4 separate regions of the Homo sapiens genome follow, and all the other regions are linked to region 1. Evidence: fine-mapped expression QTL. A gene starts in region 1. Each other region holds a variant in brackets. All regions are shown on one strand. Distances are between the middles of the regions. Region 1 holds the start of ZFP37 (ZFP37 zinc finger protein). Region 2 has its middle 15 kb from the start of FAM225B. Region 3 has its middle 9.9 kb from the start of FAM225B. Region 4 has its middle 20 kb from the start of FAM225B.

Evidence for each region.
Region 2: its variant is fine-mapped to the expression of ZFP37 in lung (TOPMed, PIP 0.91).
Region 3: its variant is fine-mapped to the expression of ZFP37 in pancreas (GTEx, PIP above 0.99). The same link has a PIP of 0.9 or more in whole blood.
Region 4: its variant is fine-mapped to the expression of ZFP37 in whole blood (TOPMed, PIP above 0.99).

The regions. Positions count from the first base shown.
Region 1 is chr9:113,055,505-113,058,194 of GRCh38, reverse strand. It overlaps ZFP37 (ZFP37 zinc finger protein), which reads left to right and starts at 1,471. Exons shown (of 4, transcript NM_003408.3): 1 at 1,471-1,638. The coding sequence starts at 1,507. RefSeq lists an enhancer at 1,271-1,840.
Region 2 is chr9:113,095,364-113,098,053 of GRCh38, reverse strand. No RefSeq gene overlaps it. Among named protein-coding and RNA genes, the nearest start is that of FAM225B, 15 kb to the left of the region's middle. The variant T/C (reference allele first, on the strand shown) is at 1,111.
Region 3 is chr9:113,100,454-113,103,143 of GRCh38, reverse strand. No RefSeq gene overlaps it. Among named protein-coding and RNA genes, the nearest start is that of FAM225B, 9.9 kb to the left of the region's middle. The variant C/G (reference allele first, on the strand shown) is at 1,179.
Region 4 is chr9:113,089,938-113,092,627 of GRCh38, reverse strand. No RefSeq gene overlaps it. Among named protein-coding and RNA genes, the nearest start is that of FAM225B, 20 kb to the left of the region's middle. The variant T/G (reference allele first, on the strand shown) is at 1,370.

The DNA of each region.
Region 1 (2,690 bases):
CTTAAGTAGGTGAAGAGTAATTTCAAGCCATCAATTATTTTTCAGTCTTCACTGAGTCCTTAGTTTAGTATTGCTGGATAACAAATTATCACCAGCTTTAGTGGATTAAAGTATCACAAACCTATTATCTCACAGATTCTGTAACCTGGAAGTCTGTGTATATCATGGTTAGGGTGATGGTTAATTTTATCGGTCAACTTGACTGGGCTAAAGGATGCCCAGAAAACTGGTGAAACATTGTTTCTGGGTTTGTTAGTGTGTTTCTGGGAAAAGATTAGCATTTGAATTAGCAAACTGAATAAAAAAGCCCCCACCAATGTGGGTGGCCACCACCTAATCCACTGAGGGCCTGAAAGGACAAAAAGGAAAAGGAAGGGTGAATCCTCTTTTCTATTTTTTTTTAATCTTTAACTTTTGTGGGTACATAGTAGGTGAGTATATTTATGGGGTACATGAAGTAGTTTGATACAGGCATGCACAGTGCAATAATCACATCATGGAAAATGGGGTATCTATCCCCTCAAGCATTTATCTTCTGTGTTACAATCCATTTATACTTTGTTATTTCGAAATGTACAACTAAATTATTATTGGATATATACACCTGTAGTGCTATCAAATACTAGGTCTTATTCCTTCTTTCTTTTCTTTTTTTTTAAAAACCCGTTAAGTATCCCCACTTCCCTCCCACCTTTTCTTTTTTCTTGAGCTGGGACATTCATCTTCTGCCTTTTGACATTGGAGACCCTGGTTTTCTGGCCTTTGGACTCTGGACTTACATCATCCCTACCCCTCTCCACTCTTTTTCCAGTACCTTGCATAGCGCAGCACCTAACCTGCACATATTCAATGAATGCAATTAATGCATGAAATGGCGCATTAAGGAATTATTTCTCCAAGTGCTTGATTATTCTGGTGAAATATCTTCACCAAACCCGGGCTCTCACGGAGGAGTGGTGTGTTTACTTAAGTTTCTGTTTCAGTTTTTCTTATTGTTCTTATACTATATATGAAAAGATTTATCGTATATCTCAAAGATTAACGTCCTCTCCCTATAAAATAATGTTATTTGTTCGATCAGGCTTTTCTCCGTTATGCTTCCAATTTCTCGCATCCTGCCTTTCTAAAGTCCGCACTAAGCGTTGTGATTCCCGGACTTCTAGCCGCTGGCCGCACTGACATGTATTCGGAAAAGCAATTCCAAATTCTGTAAAATATCTTCCGGCAGTGATGCGATCCGAACTCCGGCAGTGGGTTGTCAGGCCCAGGTCAGTCCTGTAGTGCGTAACGGAACTCGGTTCCGGCTGGCTCTGATCGCATCACTCCTGCATCCTGCAAGTAACGCCCTCGCCAGCTTCCACCTCCCGATCTAATTGTCCCAGAAGTCCCCGCACTTCCGCTGTACGGCTGAGTGTTTGCCAAGATGGCCGCGCCCGTGCGCTATTACCGAAGGGCGCCGCCATCGCGGCTGCCGGACCCGCTAAGGCCGCCCTCCGGGTAGCCGCCATGTCGGTCTCCAGCGGCGTCCAGATTCTGACAAAGCCAGAGACCGTGGACCGGAGGAGAAGTGCGGAAACGACCAAAGAGGCCGGGCGACCACTGGAGATGGCTGTGTCCGAGCCCGAGGCCAGCGCCGCGGTGAGAGCTGTGATGAGACAGGGTGTTTTGGCGGTCAGAGATGGTGTACTTGCGGGGCAGTGATTGGAGTAGTCTGTGACGATAGGTGATTTGGGAATTGGTGGAATCGATGCTAGATGGTCTTTTGGGAGGTCGGTGTTCTGAGTTATCTGTGGGGTTAATGATTTGGCTTTAGGATATCAGTATTAGGAGGGATCTGCAGAGACAATGATGGGGAGGCGTCTGTGGCAGTCACCGAGTGTCGGAGTTTGGAAGGAGATCAGAAATGGAGGCTTTGTGATGTGTCAGAGATAGGGAAGGACCGTGGGGGTTGGCGGTTTGGGATGTCTATGGGAGCCAGCGATTATGGGTGCCTGTGGTGGTTAGAGCCTGGGTTATCAAAGAGGGTCAGTGTTAGGATTTGGGAAATTCAGTGATTGGGAGCATCTGGGAGCATCAGAGATTGGGGCTTGGGAGTCAGTGACGGTGATGTCTGTGGAAGTTTGATTAGCAGTATCTTTGAGGGTCAGTGGGTAATGGAGGAATCGGGGGGCCAGTGAGGGGGGAATATGACTGTTGGAGTTTGGGGAGTCAATGTTGAGGTGTCTCTGGGGATGGTAGATGATTTGTATGTCATCTGGGGAGAAAAGGTAATTGGGGATGTATGCAGGTCAATAATTAGGTGGTGTCTAGCAGTAATAACTGTGCTTTGAGTAATGAGGTGATTAGTAGGAATTAATGATTGAAGATCCTCTATGATTCTGTGACTAGAAGTCTAAGGGGGTCAGGAGTTTGAGGGGATTGCTGCATTTAATGATTGAGGGTTCTTTGGTGGTCAGTGATTGGAGATCTGTGGAGGTTAATGATTGTTCTGTGGAGAGTGATAGTTGGGAACTTGCAGAGATCCATAATTGGGAGAAGTTTGTGAAGGTTAGTGATTGGGGAGTATTTGGGTGTCAGTGATTGAAAACTTGCAGGAACAGTAGGAACAGTCTGTAAGATGAGCATTTATTTTATGCCAGGGGGTATTTTTTATTTTATTTGTTTGGTGTTGTTGTTTTGCAGTCCCTGCT
Region 2 (2,690 bases), 40 kb before region 1:
TTACACTTCTCAGCCCTATTGTTTTCTTTAGGCTCTGGCCAAATAACTGACTTGCTCTTTGAGTTTCAGCATCCTTTTGTCCGCAGAGGTAGCCCTGATTTCTGGTGGGCTTGCGCTTTGTAAAAAAAGGCTGGCATGCTCCTGGCCAGCCTTTTCTTTTCTTCTCTGTTTAATTGGATAAAAGCACTGAAACAAATGCCTCATGTTTTTTAAGATATGCTTTAAGAGTCCATAGCAAGAACTGGGCATCTTGTACCAAGAATTTCTGCCAATCACCTCTCCTGTGCTGGATGACTCTTCTCCATAGGGTGAATGGGCTCCAATCCTGCAACCCCTAATTTATCTCCTTCTGCTATGAGTATCCTAAGGTCCTCTTTCTCTTGATTTGTTGATAATATCTTGTCCAGGATCACCTCTTCTGTCTGACCTGCTTGAGGGTTTCTTCTAAGAAGCTTCATGGGCACAGCTATAAAGTCAGCCCTTGAATCATACATGGGTTGATGAGAAACAAAACTTAGACTGGGGAAGGGGTTGGGAATGGGGATTGTTAAACAGTGTTTTGTATCTGAAGACTTCAAAAAGTGTATCCCAAGCCACATAATTTGGGCTTCTAAAAACTTTTGAGGACATAGATAAAAAAGGAAAAGTCTTGAGACTAGTTCTGATAATATTCCAGTCACAAGACTGTCAAATGTCTGGTTCTGACTTCCTAGGATGAAGTTCCCTGGATTGAGCAGTGTAGAGTGTGCAGCAGTCCATGAAGGACACATCCCCCCAGAATTGATCTTCCCATATTCTTGCCCAACTGTATGTTCTAGATGTTTTCAGTCTTTCTGGTTTAGATTTTCCCTTGGGCCTCTTGATAATCCATTCTTTGAGTACCTTACCGAGCCACATTTTGTCCCTTCCCAGAGGACCCTTCACTGAATAGATTTCTAAACCCCTCATTAGGTTACATTTAGGGCCCCTCATGGACCAATGGAGGAGGCCTTTGTCCAAGACCTTGCTTAGCTGGAACTTGGGTGGGCCTCTCCCATAAAGCCTTGTTACCGTAGGAAAACAAAACAATGAATTAATGGAACCCATGGGCAGGTCAACTTGGTGAGAATT[T/C]GAGATCTTGGGAGAGTGTGGGGTCAGGTGAGGTGGTGAGGTCCAAAAACAAAGGCAGGTACTGGTTGCAAAATAGGATCCCAAGTGTGTTCTGAGTATAGAAGGATCCGAGTGTGTTCTGTGAGTAGAAGGCAAAGGGGGTGGCAAAATATGATCCATGAACAATCTTGGATCCAGTATCACACAGTGCTGTGATTGAAGAAAGGCACCCAGTCGTGATAATGAAAAGAAGGAAAGTGAGGGGATACTTCAATCCAGTCTGAGGTCAGAAGTATGTAAGCAAGAATGAATGATGACTCAATTGAGCCCGTGGGGAGAGAGAGAGAGACAGACAGACAGACGGACAAACATCTTCCCTCAGCTCCTGGCACTAAACAATATGTGTGTTATGGTCTGAATGTGTGAGTCTCCCAAAATTCATAGGTTGAAATCATAACCCCCAAGATGATGGTATTATTAAGAGGTGGTGCCTTTGTGGGGTGATTAGGTCATGAAGGTGGAACCCTCATGAGTGAGATTAATGCCCTTATAAAAGAGAACACCGAGAGCTAGCTAGCTGCTTCCACCATATGAGGTTACAGTGAGAAGATATGCCCTCATTAGACACTGAATCCACCTGGATCTTGGGCTGTGCAGTCTCCAAAACTATGAGAAATAAATTTCTGTGGTTTATAAGCCATACAGCTTGTGGTATTTTTATAGTCCATTGTCAAATGGACTCAGACAGTACATTTTCATGGTTGCTCTATCTTGCTCCTTACACCATGGATTTTGATGTAACTGCTCTATACATCTATCCTCAAAAGGAAGCACATGCAGGTGCCTATAGGATACAAGATGCAAAAAGTGTGTCCTGGAGGAGAATGGGGATAGTCTTGACTGGCAGGCTTAGTGATGTCCCATTTTCCCATGTTGACAGCTGTTGTGGGACCTCAAGTTCTTGCCTTCTTAGTTAAAAAGAATTTAAACAAGAGACACACAGCGAAGTAAATGCAGTATACAGTAGTTTATTGCAAAAGAAAAAGAATATTTTGAGAGTTAAGTGCAGAATAGACAGTACACCCTGAGGGAGAGAGGATTCAGGGTGGGCTATTCGTAAGAATGAGACAGTAAAGACTGGCACTAGGGCGACTCCCTTTATGGGAGTTGGACATGATTATTCATAAGGGGTTGGGAAAAGTTGTTACTAGTAAGCATATTCTGGGTGGTTTTCTGGGTGCACAGATGCAGTAGCAGTACATATTTGTTCATAGATTGCATATCTCATTAGCATCTTAAATCTCCACCCAGGGGTATGTTTTTTACTATTATAATGAGCAAAGAGTCAGTTTGAGGACAGGTGAAATCAAAATGCACATACTCTCTGCAGGGGAAATTCCCTACTAGAGATAGCTTTGCTTGAATGAGCTGGACTACAATGCGAATGCTGAGGTTTATTGTGTTGACTGTACCATCATGGCTGCCATGTCCTGAGGACATTGCTACTTCCTTGACTGCCTATCCTGCCTCACCCACATCTCTGAATTTGCCACTCTCCTTTTATCACTTATCCCACCACTTCCTTTCACATTTCATTCCTA
Region 3 (2,690 bases), 45 kb before region 1:
AGGTTAAAAGCCATTCTGGTTCTTGGGCTAAGTCTCAGTAGCAGAGAGAAATAGAAGAGGAAAGGTATGGGATAGAAGTGTATTCACTACCACTCTCTCTGATCAAACCTTGGAGGGGAGCAACGGAGTCCCAGATGTATCCAGGAAGGGGGTCTTGCTTATAGTTTTCACAGCATTGCCTGGGATACAACAGATAATTCCTAGTTGCTATTGTGGGCTATGAATGAGCTAGAATGGGTTCTATATGTCAATGTGGCGGGTGCTGGAAAATTATTTTTAATGATTACATTTTCTTTGACATGTAGTCTCCATTGTTGCTACAGATGGAGAAGAGAAACAGGAGGATTGCATACAGAAAATATATATAGCCAAGTACAAACATGGCATCCATGACTTTTCTTCATGTTGCATTGAGCAAACTCACTCATGGGGCCCCAACTAACTGCAAGGGATGCAATATTTTGCTGTGTCCAAGGGGAAAGTGAATTGGGCTTGGTGAACATATAGCATAGACTCTACTGCAGAGTGGTCTTTAGGTCACCAAAATTCATGTTTCTCTTTCCCCCTCAGGTAGAGCACATTCACTATATCTCCAAAGAAGATGTTAGGAGCCAGCCAAAGTATTATCTAGTAATGCATCCACATCAGTGTTCTGGAACGTGGGGTTGGTCATGTGTACTCTTCCCCATAGTGGCTGGATGTGGCTCTGTGTATATTGTGGAGACAAGGTAATGATGATAAAGACCCCCACTCAGATAGGGATAAATAGGAAACACACAGCAATTTTTATTGCCTACTGGGTGAGCATTATAAAATGTGAATATTTTCCTCAATGAAAAGTAAGAAGAGAACTAGGTTCTCATGAAAAAGTGGCAAAATGGTTTTTACAAACTCTGGCGACTCATATATTTTAAAGTTGCCTAATCAACTGAAATGTATGTATGTAAGCATGGGTATATTCACTAAAGCCTAGAACTAATGATGACCTTAGCAGCAAAGGAATAAAAATATGTTCAATAATTAGTCAGATTGATTGAAATTTGTTTTTTTGTTTGTTTGTTTTTGAGATGGAGTCTTGCTCTGTCGCCCAGGCTGGAGTGCAGTGGCACAATCTCGGCTCACTGCAACCTCCGCCTCCTGGTTCAAGCAATTCTCCTGCTTCAGCCTCTCAAGTAGCT[C/G]GGACTACAGGCATGTGCCACCACACCCGGCTAATTTTTTGTATTTTTAGTAGAGACAGGGTTTCACCATGTTAGCAAGGATGGTATCAATCTTCTGACCTCGTGATCAGCCCACCTCGGCCCCCCAAAGTGCTGGGATCATAGGCGTGAGCCACTGCGTCCGGCCTGAACTTTCTTTTTATATGTTTATTTTGCAGATAGTATTTCTTAGAATTTATATTTTGGAGAACAAAAGGTACTCATGTACATGTATAATAGTTTTATTTTATAACATAAAATTGCAGGCTCAAGCTGAAGGCTTTGAGGCCAGTACATGGAGTGACCTCAATGGACTCGAGTGGTAGCAAGCTGAATTTGGTCTCCATCATATCTTTCTGCCCCCTATTGTTACTTCCCTGACTATATTACATTTTGTAGCCAAAGGGATTTTGCAGATGCAATTAAGGTTACTAATCCATTGACAGAAAATGATCTTCTCAGTGGGCCTAATCTAATCACACGAGCCCTTAAAAACGGAAAGCTTGCTCTGCCTGGCAGAGAAAGATTCCAAGTTAGAGACTCCACAAGTTGTTGCTGCTTTGAAGATGGAGACAGCCATGTTAGAGAGAATACAGGAAGCCCAGAGGAGCAGATGGCAGCTCCCAGCTGACAGTCAGAAAAGGAAAACCTGCCTCAGACTTGTAGGTGTAAGGAATTTGATTTTTCCCAACATCCTGAATGAACTTCAAAGTTGATTTTCCCCCAGAATCTCCAGACAGGAGCCCAAATAGCTGCAGCCTTGATTTCAACCTTGGGGATCATGTGCAGAGTGTCCAGTAGATTCCATCCAGACTTCTGAATCCACCTACAGAATTGTGAGATAATAAATGGGTGTTCTTTTAAGAACAAAGTTTGTGGTGGTATTGCAGTGGCCATGGAAAATTTGTACAGTAGTTAATAGTATTACTATTATTGTTATTACTATTACTATTTTCATCTCCACAGAGTTACACCACAGAAGGTACATGCATCTGCAGCAGGCCCAGCTCAGTCAACACCTCTCTGAGTACATTCTAAAGCCACAGCATGCATGAGATTCTGAGGGCCCAGGGTCACTTCTGAACACAGCAGCCCCCCAAAGACTCACAAGGCCAATCACTGCCCACTGAGGCAGAGGTGGGGGATCCATCAGAAAGGGCTGAAAGAAGCTCTAGTAACCCAGAAGTGTCCTCCAGGACCTAATTTGTGAGGTTACACTTCTACTTCTTGTCTTCTGGAAGCCATGAAGGCAGAGCTCATGTTCCAGAGTGAAGTCTTTAGTGACCTCCACTGGACAGTTTGAGTTGGATGCCTATCAGGCCTCCTTCCCTCCCCTTTTAGGATGGGTCCATCCCAAGACATGATGGGCAAGCCCTATCCCCAGATACACCTCCCATCGGTCATTTGGTTTCCTAAGTGGTTCCTGAGTACCACATAAATGCTAAGCACTAGATGCTGGGGATACTAGATGCTCACTAGATAGCAGTGAGCAAC
Region 4 (2,690 bases), 34 kb before region 1:
AAATATCTAGTCTTTCTGCTTTCAGCAGGCTCTCCTAAATCAATTCCTAAATATCATTCAGTCATCCAAACTGCGTAAAGAATATCATCACACTTTCAAGTTATTAGTCTGAAAAGAAATCTCACACTGATGAAGAAACAAAGTAAATATAGTTAATATAGAGAATCAATTAATTAAAAAATCATTCATTTCAACTTGCAAGAGGGATGACTACACATGTTGGTAATAATCAAGTTTGCAGCCTATTTCCCCCAAAATGCACACTTCCTTGAGGTATATAAAGTTTTTACAATAGAATCTCATCTACTCTAACCTAAAGTTGGAAGTTGTCCCCCTAGCTAGTGATGAACACTTGGTAAACTTTGGAGAAAAAGTTGGAAGGCGAATGTCCCACTGCGTGTCTTGGAATAGTTGCTTCTTTCTTATGAAGACAGATGTGATAGAAACCATGAGAGCGCTGCACAAAGCAGCTGAAGCTGATGGGTGACATTCAGGTAGACAGCTTGGGGTCAACAGAGCAACCAGTGCATCTACAATATTGAAGGACAAGCTGGAGAGAACCTCAGATATAGATCAAAATATCCAGGTGGTAAATCAATACACATGAACTGCAGATCAGCCCTGTTAATGTTGTATTTTTTTTAGTGTGTTTCTTTCTTTCATTCTCATCTTTGTTGGTAATGTAATATTTTTCCCAGATTCATTAAAGAAAATAATATATATAGTTATATATACATATATATATATGAATTATATCTTCATTGGGAATTAAGTCAAACTAATTAATATTTATCACCTCACATGCTTCGAATCCTGTGCTGAGAATTCTGAAATCTGCTCTCATAGCCATCTTCAAGTGTACAATACATATGTATAACTATATTCACATTGCCATGTCATAAATATCCAGAAATCTCTAGTTAACTTTCTGATAAATTGTATCCTTTGACCAACATCTCCCTATGCCCATCTTGCCCCTGCCCTAGGCCATGAAGCCCAACTATCCACTCTAAACTTCTATAATTTTCACCTTTGTTGATCCCACATACAAGTGAGATCACGCAATATCAACATTACAGGCCTGGATTGCCCACTAGACAGGAAAACTTCAGGTTTATTCATGAAGTCAAAAATGACAGATTTTCCACTAAAAATGTGAATAGTATTCCTTTTTATGTCTCCACTGATGCCTAGGAAAATTTTGTACCTTACAAAAAGAAAAAGCCTACAACCAACATAATCTCGTACATATTTACTGTGTACATGGATTTCCTTAGGCTGTATGCCCAGATGGGAATGCTTAGATCCCAGTTCCACTAATTATTAATTAAACAGCTTCCACATTGCTCCTTACCACCACTGGCCTAAT[T/G]GACTATCTCAGCAACATTGCACCAGGATGCCCTTTTCTCCCCATATTAGACAATAATTATCTTCCGGGCATCTCAGAAAACAAGCTGAACAACAAACCCTCTAGAAAGGCCACACTACAATCCATGCTGACTCGTTTGGAGGGCCCTTGAGATGTATATAAAAGACTTAAGACCATGAATGAATCCCATGACACTAGCATTCCAGACATTAAAATTTCTTTTCAGCTTTTCCCTTTTGGGCACAGCTCTTTGGAAACAAATTTTCTATGGCTTGCCAAAAACAGGCAGGGCCCCAAATATCTGAATCTCCTTTCCCAAACTTCCTGAGTTTCTACCCGATTCCTGCCGACAATTGAGCTCTTTCTTTGACTCACGTGCTCACAAAGCAAAGAAGAAGGCTGTAGAGATAAACACAGGAACCCATCGGCAGCTGGATCAGTCCAGTTTAAACGACAATAAATATGATACACACTAACCGTGTGTGACGTCTTCATTAGGGAATTCACTAGAATCGGCCGAATTCACACACTTATCACCACACATGCGTCCCCTGTCCCCGCTCAGGAGAATTTTCAGCTCTACTCCCGTGGATATATTCACGAGAACCTTACATTCTGCTCCACCGTACTCACGTTGCCCTGCCACGGATATCCAGGAAGCACTCCACCTGTCTCTCGGAAACTTTGTGCCCTTTGACCCACATCTCGCATTGGCATCCTTTCCCTGCCCCTACACCTGCCCCTACACCGGCCCCAGGCCCAGCCAACCACCTTTCTCCTCTCTACTTTCCTGATCCTCACAGCATTTTCTCCATCCAACATCACAAGGAGATCACGCAATACGGGTCGGATGGGCCTGGCTGATTTCACTGGGCACCATGACTTTTGGGTCCATGCATAACGTCCCAGATGACAGGCTTTCCTTTCCTTTCCCTGATGTGTTTGTTCTACGAACCCTATTCATTTGTCCTTCTCTAGTCATCTGCTGAAGGGTACTTCGGTCGATTCCACGTCTTGGTTACAGGCAGCGTGCCGACAACCAATGCAGCAGGACACATATTTGCACCACAACCCGATTTCGTGTCCTTAGGCGATACGTCCAGAAGTGGGATGACTGGATCCCAGTTCCAGCGGTGATTTCTTGAGCAACCCCCCCGTATCGCTCCCGGCCACCCCTTGAGCAGCCCTTACTGTGTTGGCACCTCCCACACCCAGCTGGCCACGCAGCCCTGTCCTCAGGCCTCACTCCTCTCTGCGCCAGGTCCAAGGCAGAGACAGCGAGCCTGAGATGTCCCCGAAAGCCGTCAGGGCGTGACCGGAT